Linked DNA regions of Homo sapiens. The protein of the gene in region 2 interacts with the protein of the main gene of each other region in a pairwise test. Each region holds a gene or a part of one and is shown on either strand. Other genes may lie near its edges. The genes, in order: ZNF829, TLK1 and LUZP4.

Region 1 (3,753 bases), on a different chromosome or scaffold from region 2:
GTAGCTAAGACTGCAGGTGCATGCCACTATACCTAGCTAATTTTAAAACTGTTTATAGAGATCGGGGGGGGTCTCCCTATGTTCCCCAGGCTGGTCTTGAACTCCTGGCCTCAAGTGATCCTCCTGACTTGGCCTCCCAATGTGCTGGGATTACAGTTATGAGCCGCTATGGCACTGCTATTAAGTTTTTTTGCTTCCTTGTTAATTCTGGATATTAGTCCCTTCTCAGGTGAAGAGTTTGCAAATATTTTCTCCCATTCTACAGGTCTCTTCACTCTGCTGATTGTTTCCTTTGCTGTGCAGAAGCATTTTAGTTCAATATAGTCCAATTTGTCTATTTTTTTGTTGTTGCCCCTTATTGAAAATATCTTTGAGGTCTTATCTAAAATATATTTGCCTATTCTTCTGAAGTGTTTCCCCTATGTTTTCCTGCAGTAGTTTTATAATTTGGGGTCTTATAGTTAAGTATTTAATTCATTTTGAGTTTATTTTTGTATATGGTGAGAGATACAGTCTAGTTTCATTCTTCACTATATGGATAACCAGTTTTCCCAGCACCATTTATTGAACAGCGTGTCCTTTTCCCTATGTCTGTTCTTGGCACCTTTGTCAACCATCAGTTGACTATAAATACATGGATTTATTTGTGGGTTCTCTCTTCTGTTCCATTGGTCTTTGGGTCTATTTTTATGACAGTACCATGCTGTTTTGGTTACGACAGCTTTGTAGTATATTTTGAAGTTTGATTCTTCCACTTTTGTTCTTTCGCTACAGATTGCATTGGCTATTTGGCATTTTTTATGGTTTCCTACAAATTTTAGGATTTTTTTTCCTGTTCATGTAAAAACTGACTGGCATTTCAGTCGGGATTGCATTGAATCTGTAGATTGCATTGAATCTGTAGATTGCTTTGGGAAGTATGTTCATTTTAACAATAGTTCTTCCAGTGCATAAGCATGCAAATATCTTTTTATTTGTTTGTTGTCTTCAATTTCTTTTGTCTGTGTTTTGTAGTTTTCCTTACAGAGGTCTTTCACTTCATGGTTAAATTTATTTCTAGGTTGTTTTTTGTAGCTATTATATTAATAAATGGGATTGTTTTCTTGATTTCTTTTTCAGCTAATTCATTATTGTGGATGTATAGAAATCCTTTTTTTTTCCCTTTTTGAGACAGAGTTTTGCTCTGTCTCCCAGGCTGGAGGAGTGCAATGGCATGATCTCAGCTCTCTGCAGCTTCCACCTCCTGGGTTCAAGCAGTTCTGCCTCAGCCTCCCACGTAGGTGGGACCACAGGTGCCTGCCACCACACCTGGCCAATTTTTGTATTTTTAGTCAAGACAAGGTTTCACCATGTTGGCCAGGCTGGTCTCAAACTCGTGACCTCAAGTGATCCACCCACCTCGGCCTTCCAAACTGCTGGGATTATAGGCGTGAGCCACCGTGCCCAGCGTACTACTTATTTTTGTATATTGATTTTGTATCTTGCAACTTTACTGATTTCATTGATCAGTTCCAAGAATTTCTGGTGGCATCTTTAGGTTTTTAAATATATGTAAGATCATGTCATCTGTAAAGGGACAGTGTGACTTTCTATTATCCAATCTGGATGCCTTTTATTTCTTTCTCTTGCCTGATTGCTCTGGATAGGACTTCCAGTACTATATTGAATAATAGTGGTGAATGTGGGCTTCTTTATCTTGTTCCAGTTCTTAGAGGAAAAGCTTTCGGCTTTTCCCCATTCAGTATGGTGTTAGCTGTACGTTTGTCATATATGGTCTTTATTATGTTATGTTTTTTAATGCCTAATCGTTGAGAGGTTTTTATAATGAAGAGACGTTGAAGTTTATCAGATGTTTCTCTGCATCTATTGAGCTGATCATATGGTTTTTATCCCTCATCCTGTTGATCTGATACATCATGTTTATTGATTTGCTTATGTTGAGCCATCCTTGCACTTTTCAGGAAAAATCTCACTTAATCGTTGTATATTATCTTGTTGTTGTATTATTGGATTTCATTTGCTAGTATTTCATTGAGGGGTTTTGTGTCTATGTTCATGAGGGATATCACCTCTTTTTGTTGTTGTTGTTGTGTCCTTCTCTGGTTTTGGTATCAGGGTAATGCTGGCCTTGTAGAATGGATTAGGAAGAATTAACTTCTCTTCCATTTTTTGGAATAGTTTGAGAAAAACTGAGGTTAGTTATTTGTAATTTTGGTAGGATTCAGCAGTAAAGCCCTTTAGTCTTGGGCTTTTTTTGTTGGGAGACATTTTACTATTGCTTCAATCTCATTACTCGTTATTGGTCTGCTCAGGTTCTTCTGCTCTGTTTCTTCCTGGTTCAGTCTTGGTAGGTTTTCATGTATCCAGGAATTTTTCTGTTTCCTCTAGGTTATCTGATTTGTTAGCATATAGTTGCCTGTAGTAGTCTTTGATGATCTTTAATTTCTTAATTGACCCAATGGGCATTCATGAGCAAGCACATTGTTTAAATTTCCATTTATTTGTGTGGTTTACAAAGTTTTTGTTATTGATTTCTAGTTTTATTCTAGTGTAGTCTGAGAAGATACTTGATATGATTTCAATTTTTAAAAATTAGTTATAACTTGTCTTATGGCCTAACGTATGGTCTCTTCCTGGAGGATGTTCCATGTGCTGATAGGAACAATGTGTATTCTGCAGCTGTTGGATAAAATGTTCAGTTAGTGTCTGGTAGGTCCATTTGGTCTAATATCCAGTTTAAATCCAAAGCTGTTGATTTTCTATCTAGATGAACTGTCTAATGCTGAGAGTGGGATGTTCAAATCCCGTACTATTATTTTATGGGAGTCTACCTTTTTTTGTTGTTGTTTTTTTGAGACAGAGTCTAGTTCCGTCGCCCAGGCTGGAGTGCAGTGGCACAATATTGGCTCACTGCAACCTCTGCCTCCCAGGTTCAAGCAATTCTCCTGCCTCAGCCTCCTGAGTAGCTCGGATTACAGGTGCATGCCACCACGCCCAGCTAATTTTTTTTTCTTTCTTTTTTTTTTTTTGACAGTCTTGCTCTGTCACCCAAGCTGGAGTGCAGTGGTGCGAACCCGGCTCACTTCAGGCTCCGTCTCCCAGGTTCACACCATTCTCCTGCCTCAGCCTCCCGAGTAGGTGGGACTACAGGTGCCTGCCACCATGCCTGGCTAATTTTTTGTATTTTTAGTAGAGACGAGGTTTCACCATGTTAGCCAGGATGGTCTCAATCTCCTGACCTCGTGATCTGCCTGCCTCAGCCTCCCAAAGTGCTGGGATTACAGGCATGAGCCACCGCGCCTGGCCACACCCAGCTAATTTTTGTATTTTTAGTAGAGACAGGGTTTCGTCATGTTGGGAAGGCTGGTCTCGAACTCCTGACCTCAAGTGATCCTCCCGCCTTGGCCTCCCAAAGTGTTGGGATTACAGGCATGAGCCACCATGCCCAGCCCTATCTCTCTTTTTAGATCTAATAATATTTGCTTATATATCTGGGTGCTGCAGTGTTGAGTGCCTATAAATTTAGAACTTTATATCCTCTGGCTGAATTGACCCATTTATCATTATATAATGACCTTCTTTGCTTCTTTTGCAGTTTTTTACTTAATGTCTGTTTTATTTAAGTATGGCTACTCTCACTTGCTTTTGGTTTGTTTGTGTGCAGTATTTTTTTTTCATCTCTTCACTTTCAGTCTATGATTTTATATATAAAGTGAGTTTCTCACAGCCAGTATATAGGTGAGTCATATTTAT
Region 2 (3,753 bases):
GCATTATTTTCTTCTTCTTACAGTGTTTAATCTATGTTGAAGATCTGTTAGGTAGGCTTTCTTGGCCTGCTATCAATTATAGCTTGTTTGTATGAGAATTCATCTCAGGTTTCAAATAACTGAGGAAGATTTTAGAACACAAGATATTTGGATTTTCGGTTTTGGGAATTCGCTTAAACAGAAATGATATCTGTGTTTAAATATTTTGTGAGAAAAGTATCTCAACATTTAATTTTTTTTTTAAGCCATTTGGTCACAATCAATCTCAACAAGACATTCTTCAAGAAAATACAATATTAAAAGCCACAGAAGTCCAGTTCCCTGTAAAACCGGTTGTAAGCAGTGAAGCCAAGGTATTAAATTTTTGTAAATGAGTTTTGTGAAGTAACTTTTCTTTCATCAGTTGTGCTGACAACAAGGTAAGTACTTTCCAGTAAGTAAAGTCACAAGACTCGCTGCTGCAGGGGATCTGTCCAGCAGGGGCTGGTGATTTACTTTCAGAGAAGGAGTTGCATCAGCCTCTGGTTGCTATAGTTTTTATCTTTTAAGCTATGGTCTCTGATTGTTTATGTTCATCAGCTGCTACTTTGAAAATTAGGGAAAAATCACAAGATCTGGGCTCATCATTACCTTTTATGTATTATTTTATCTGCTTATGTTAATACTGAGATATATAAGTATATAAGAAATATTAAAAGTAATAATAAGGCTGGGCGTGGTGGCTCACACCTGTAATCCCAGCACTTTGGGAGGCCAAGGCGGGCAGATCATCTGAGGTCAGGAGTTTGAGACCAGCCTGACCAACATGGTGAAACCCGGTCTCTACTAAAAATACAAAAATTAGCCAGGCGTGGTGGCACACATCTAGAGTCTCAGTTGCTTGGGAGTCTGAGGTGGGAGGATCACCTGAGCTCAGGGAGGTCAAGGCTGCAGTGAGCCATGACGATACCGCTGCACTCAAACCTGGGGGACAGAGTGACACCCTGTCTCAAAAAAACCAAATAGGCCATGCGCGGTGGCTCACACCTGTAATCCAGCAATTTGGGAGGCCCAGGCAGGCAGATTGCCTGAGCCCAGGAGTTCGAGACCAGCCTGGGCAACATGGTGAAACCCCATCTCTACTAAAAATACAAAAATTAGCCCGGTGTAGGGGCCCGTGCCTTTAGTTTCAGCTTCTCAGGATGCTGAGCTGGGAGGATCGCTTGAGACCAAGAGGTAGAGGTTGCAGTGAGGTGAGATCGCACCACTGCACTCCTGCATGGGCGACATAGCAAGACCCATTCTCAAAAAAACAAAAGAGATAAATATTCTTATTTGAAAGCAAAATGAATTATTTTTGTAAGATAAATATGACTCCTTTAAAAATATTTTAACTGTGCTGACATCTAAATCTTGTCTTATTTTCTGTCTGTAGCCTCATTGAGAACAGAAATTAAATGAATTTAGTTGATTCATGATCTGTTTGTTTAATACTGACTGAAAAGACCAGGAGGAGTGGAGTTGCCAAAGGCAAAGTCTCATTTAGCCATTCCTGGTTCTCTCCTTAGGCTCTTAATAGGCACCACAGTCACCTTTTAGAGATCTGGAATCCAGGAAGGGTTAAGGGGTTGTTGGGGGGATATAATATTAATATGATACAATTATATGATATAAATTTTAATATTTTAATGTAATATATAATATCTCTATATTCTGTATCCCTACAGAAGATACCTTTGCCAAGTACTTTCCCTGACTTGGTGTGGGCATCTTTAAGTACATTATTTGTTGCAGACTTAACCTTAACCTTGCTATTGATAGCCTTTCCACTCCTCAAACTCTAACATATCAGTCTTGATGTTTTTTTCCCTCTTAATCATTTTTCAAAGTGATCTCTGAAACTTTGTTAAAGATAAAAAAGATAAGTCCTCTAAGGGATCAGATTGACTTCCAATAAACAGTAAGCTATGGTAAAATGAGAATAGCTAGGTATATTTTTAGAGAAAAATATACTTCTAATGAATTTCAAAGCAAAGAAAGTGCAAAATAGTTACCTTTTAATGTGATTATACTTCTGTTTAATGGTATGTATTAATTTCTAGTGTCAGCATTAAGAAAGGGAAACAATTACCAGTTACCTCCTGAGAATATTTTATCTGTTCCCTCCCCCCCCAAAAAAGGATGAACCTCAAAATTTAATATTGGGTGAAAGAGGCCTGGCAAAGGAGAACATAATTTATAATTCTATTTATATAAAATTCAAACAATCAAAACTCAACTATGGTTTTAGAAGTCAAGATAAAGGTTAACCCAGGTTCGACTGGGGACAGAGCCAGTGCCTGGAACTGGGCATGAGGGGGATTCAGAGGTTCTTTTTCTTGATCTGGTTGCCAGTTACATAGATGTATTTACTTTGTGCTATGCACTTAACGATTTGTGTGCATTTCTAAAAATGTGTTACACTTCAGGAAAGGTTTTTTTTTTTTTTGTAAGAGGCTATTCTCAAAGAAAAACTGAGTAAAATTGGTTTGAGAAAAAAAAAATAGTGATTATATTCTGTTTATTTAGCTTTTCCAGGAGTGTAATGATGCATAGGGTTAACCTGGGAAACAATGTCCCTAATGAAAGTGTCCCTTCAGTGATCTCTTCATCTAAAGAAAGTCTTTATGTCAGTAGGAAAAAAAAATAATGGTTGAAAATGGCATCTTACCCTTTGCTAAACTGAAGTGATAACAAAATGGGATGAGGGTGGGAGGACTGTTTAGCAGAAGAAAAATGCTAGAAAAAAGTCTTCAGAATTTCGTAAGCAGAAACAACTTTCCAGTATAAGTTCAAATGGTTGCAGTAGTAATTTAGACTGTAAAGTGAACCACTGCAGGGGCTTCAAGCAGTGAGTTGCATTTGGAGTGAGAATTTTCTAGCTACAGAATTTTTTTTTTAAGGTTTGAACTTCCAATAAAATGAGATCTACTTATGTCTTAAATGTGTCCATCCTTCTGCTGATTCAGTTGATTGATATTTAGAAGGGAAAAAGATCATTAATTGCTAACATTTCCTTTCTCTTTTTGAGGCATTTATAAGACGCTGTTTGGCATATCGAAAAGAAGATCGATTTGATGTGCACCAGCTGGCAAATGACCCATACCTTCTCCCACACATGAGAAGATCAAATTCTTCAGGAAACCTACACATGGCTGGGCTGACAGCATCCCCTACACCCCCTTCTTCAAGCATAATTACTTACTGACTTTCCTCCAAGATTGGCATGATATCTTTGAATTTGCTTCCAGATGCACACTTAAGTTTGAGAGCATTTGAGTGTTTGTTTTCTTTTTCTTTTTTTTTTTTTTTTTTTTTTACACAAGACGTGGTTAAGAACTGTTTGTGAACTGAAGTTCCTCATAGTGTCATTTGTATGAGAGAGGATCATGGACAATGAATAAATGCACACTTCTGACTATAATTTTGAGCAGTGAAGGAAGGATGACTGCCTGTTACACAGAAACAGGAATACCATGTTAAGATAGAGGAAAAAAATTTTGTTTATTTGGGGGAACACTGTAAATAACGTTTATAATACTTAAATACATTTGGTTGTTACTAGAGAGTTCTAATATGAAGGGTAGTTTTTCATTATTTAAAAACACATGGAAAAATATGAGACATATTTCTAACATACGAACTATAGTGCCTGGATACATTCTTCAGCATTTGGCAGTTAATCTGCTGAAACCAAAGTAAGAACTGAATGACAGTGACAGTTGTGTTTTATAG
Region 3 (3,753 bases), on a different chromosome or scaffold from region 2:
CCTTTCATTCTTTTTCTTGACTAATTGCTCTGGATGGAATTTCTAGCAAAATGTTAATTAGATGCGGTGAGATTGGACATCCTTGACTTGTTTCTGATCTTAGGGAGAAAAGCTTTCAGTTTTTCACCATTAATCATCATTTTACCTTTGGTTGGGTTTTTGTAGATGCCCTTATGAGGTTGAGGAATTTACCTGCCTCCCACTTTACTTCTGAGGGGGAATGGCCCTGAAAAGTAACTAAGTATTTTTTGTTGTTGTTGTCTTTAAGATGTTTTTAGCAATCTATTTTAAGATCGGTATCAATTTCCTCTTCTAAGACATGGTCCCTGTTGATCCCATACTGCTACTTCCCCCTACCCCAACTTCATCACAAGTTCTGAAATATTTTGTGGCATTAAAATGACTTTAAAAATAATATTTGGTCACTGGCCAGGGCTGGGACTAGGGTGAGGTAAATGAGGCACTTGCTTCCAGTATAAAGTTCAAGGAGTCACAAAAAAAAAATTTGTTAATAGGGATAATTAATATTTTAATGAAATATTTAAAAAATCAAATGGACACACTACAGCCATCTGTCTGGCCACCTGTTTTTGTAAATAAAGTTTTCTTGACCTAAGAACTAGAGTGAAACAAGTGAAGGAGGGCTGTGCAAGTACAGGGTCTGATCTGATCCTATTTTTTTTTTTCTTTTTTGAAATGGGATCTCACTCTGTCACCCAGGCTGGAGTGCAGTGGCATTATCACAGCTCACTGCAGCCTCGACTTCCTGGGCTCAGGCAATCCTCCCACCTCAGCCTCCCAAGTAGCTGGGATACAGGCGTGTGCCACCACGCCCAGCTAATTTTTTTGTATTTTTGTAGAGACGGGTTCTCACTATATTGCCTAGACTGGTCTCGACTTCTGGGCTCAAGCGATCCATCCACCTTGACCTCCCAAAGTGCTAGGATTACAGGTGTGAGCCACCACATCCGGCCTTTGATACTATCCTTTTTTTAAAAAAAAAGCTTGATATTTTGTTCATCACGGATTGGTTTTGCATTGATTTTTATTTTTGAAAATACTGTGAGGCGGGCGTGGTGGCTCACACCTATAATCCCAGCTCTTTGGGAGGCTGAGGCAGGTAGATGACCTGAGGTCAGGAGTTCGAGACCAGCCTGGCCAACATGGTGAAATCCTGTCTCTCCTAAAAATACAAAAATTAGCCGGGCGTGGAGGCAGGCGCCTGTAGTCCCAGCTACTTGGGAGGCTGGGACAGGAGATTTGCTTGAACCCGGGAGGCCGAGGTTGCAGTGAGCCGAGATTGTGCCACTGCACTCCAGCCTGGGTGATGGAACTAGACTCCGTCTCAAAAAAAAAAAATAAAAAAAGATTGAAAAAAAGAAAATATTGTGTTGAGATATTTTAATCTTGATTACTGAGTTTTGGGGGACCTCCTTGAATTTTGTGCCTGAATTCCTCACTTACCTCACTCTAGGCCCTGCCTTGTCACTGGGACCTTGAAGGGAGAAAAACCTAGAACTGAAGGGAATTTATAGCACTGAGGTAAAACTTCATGCTTCCTGCACTTTTCTTTGTGTTGATTTCACTGATGTTTTTGCAACTGCTAACAGAAAAGACAAAACAAAACTGATAAATAGCTAAAGCAATGGGTTTATCTCAAAATTCAGAGAAATAAGGGCCATAGTTGCAGAGTGGCTTGGTCCCAAAAATGTAGTAGTTGTGTGACCTTGTGCAAGTTGCTCCATCTCTTGGGGCCTGAGTTTCCTGATCTGAATAAAATCTACATCATAGAGTTGTTGAAGATTAAATGAGAGAATACAGGTAATGTTCACAAAGTATGCTGCCTGACGTGGAAAAAGCTGAGTAAATATTTGCTATATGTGCCCCGGAAAGTGGGCCTAAACGCTCACGTTTGGGTAGCCAGCAATTTGGCAAGCTGGAGAAGTTACCTCTCCTCTTAGGATTTTGTTATCAAACTTCATAGATACAGTAGACATGAAAGAGATTAAAAACCATCTAGGTGAAAGATGGGGTTTAAACAGCTCACGTCAGTCTCTGGGAGACTGAGAGAGATGGTGGTGTCGTGTAACTTGAATAATAGTGAAGTAAACGGACTTAGGAGGCACTTATATTTTAGTAGATGATTACAGCTGGAAGGATACTGGAGAGTCTGCTTTGGGAAAGATTGCTTCAGTTATTTGAAAGGCTGAGGAAAGATGTTGAGTTGAATTTGGTAGGTTAGTTGGAGATTAAGTATGACTGTAAGATCTCATAGTCACCGAGTTGTAAAAAATCTTGAGGTCACTGTTTTATCCTTTTAAACGTTGGTTCTCTATATCCATATTTTAAACATTGGTTCTCTATATCCATATTTATACCTTTTTAGACAGATGAGAATCCCAGTTTTGATCATGTCAGGAGGAACAGCAAAACTTTCGACTAGTTATCACAGGCCCTTGCGGTTTATTTTATTTTTACTTTTATTTAATTTTTTGAGACAGGGTCTCTGTCGCTGAGGCTGGAGTGCAGTGGCACAATCACAGCTCACTGCAGCCTGGACCTCCCAGGCTCAAGCGATCCTCCCACCTTTGCCCCCAGAGTAGCTGGGACCCTAGGTGTGCACCACCACACCTGGCTCATTTTTGTATTTTCTTTGGTAGAGACGGAGTTTCGCCATGTTGCCCAGGCTGGTCTCGAACTCGTGGGCTCGAGCGATCTTCTCGCCTTGGCCTCCCAAAGTGCTGGGATTACAGCCGTGAGCCACCGTGCCAGGCTGAGGCCCTTGCAGTTTGAAGGCAAGAAAAATACACAATAAATAGCAAATACATGTTGCTTTCTATGATGTAATGAGAACGCCATACTTTTTCCTGATAAATTTCCCCATGTTTTTCTCAGTGAAAATAATACTTTTTAACAATGCATATCTTTGTTTTTAGATAACTAAACACATGCTTTAGAAAAGCAGTAGTATGTTGGATGCAAGGTTATTACTTCCATTGTAATACACGCTAAAGTAGGAAAAGGCTCTACAGATTTATTTTTGTTTTTGCCCTCAGTAAACATACCCAAAAAGTATTAGAGTCCTTTTTTTTTTTAAAACAAATAAAAGGCAAAAATAAGACCAAAATTCGAACTGGTAACAGCAAGAACTTAATAGGAACTCCACTCCCCTGTTAATTACTTTTACCTAAAAGAGACTGATGCAAAAGTGTTGTAGTTAGAAAGAAAAGAACTCTTTCTGCCTGCTAGATATGTTGGACCACGAATCCACAAATATGGATTATCCACTCTGTATTCTGTGCTAGGCACTTAGTACACTAGTAAATAAACAGTGGTCTCTTCTCAAGTACCTCCTAATCTAGCTGGAGAGACAGCTAAGTAAATATGTGCAATTATACATTGTTTTAAGTATTCTGGAAGTATGTATAGTCAGAATTTTTCAGAAGTTGAGAGGAACCTAAGTCACTTACATTTTTTGAGGTTTCCAGTGTTTTAAATATTTAAAAAATGGCAAAACAAAAATTGTGGTGTATTTTACATGTTTATAAATATAAAATAGTGGTTTCAACCCACTGTAAAATAAAATGCAATATAAGTATACTTTTCACAAGAAAATTAATTATGCAATTTAAATAAAAATGTAATTATTCATATGGCACCTCAAGCAGTGTGATCAGTTTTAAACTGTGTGAGGAATACTGTCTTTCTTCAGTCCTGACAGTTTATTTCTGAGAGTAAGTATATCAAGAATTC

The links.
Region 1: the proteins of TLK1 (region 2) and ZNF829 interact in binary tests that used the Homo sapiens proteins (3 or more experiments, as listed by UniProt).
Region 3: the proteins of TLK1 (region 2) and LUZP4 interact in binary tests that used the Homo sapiens proteins (3 or more experiments, as listed by UniProt).

What each region holds. Positions count from the first base shown.
Region 1 is NC_000019.10:36,895,583-36,899,335, reverse strand, and holds part of ZNF829 (zinc finger protein 829), read left to right. Parts: intron 1-3,753. UniProt on the Homo sapiens protein: May be involved in transcriptional regulation.
Region 2 is NC_000002.12:170,993,253-170,997,005, reverse strand, and holds part of TLK1 (serine/threonine-protein kinase tousled-like 1), read left to right. Parts: intron 1-245; coding exon 246-353; intron 354-3,049; coding exon 3,050-3,226; 3' UTR 3,227-3,753. UniProt on the Homo sapiens protein: Rapidly and transiently inhibited by phosphorylation following the generation of DNA double-stranded breaks during S-phase. This is cell cycle checkpoint and ATM-pathway dependent and appears to regulate processes involved in chromatin assembly.
Region 3 is NC_000023.11:115,292,604-115,296,356, forward strand, and holds part of LUZP4 (leucine zipper protein 4), read left to right. Parts: intron 1-3,753. UniProt on the Homo sapiens protein: Export adapter involved in mRNA nuclear export in cancer cells. Binds and enhances the RNA-binding activity of the nuclear RNA export factor NXF1. Can restore mRNA export function in cells compromised by loss of mRNA export adapters.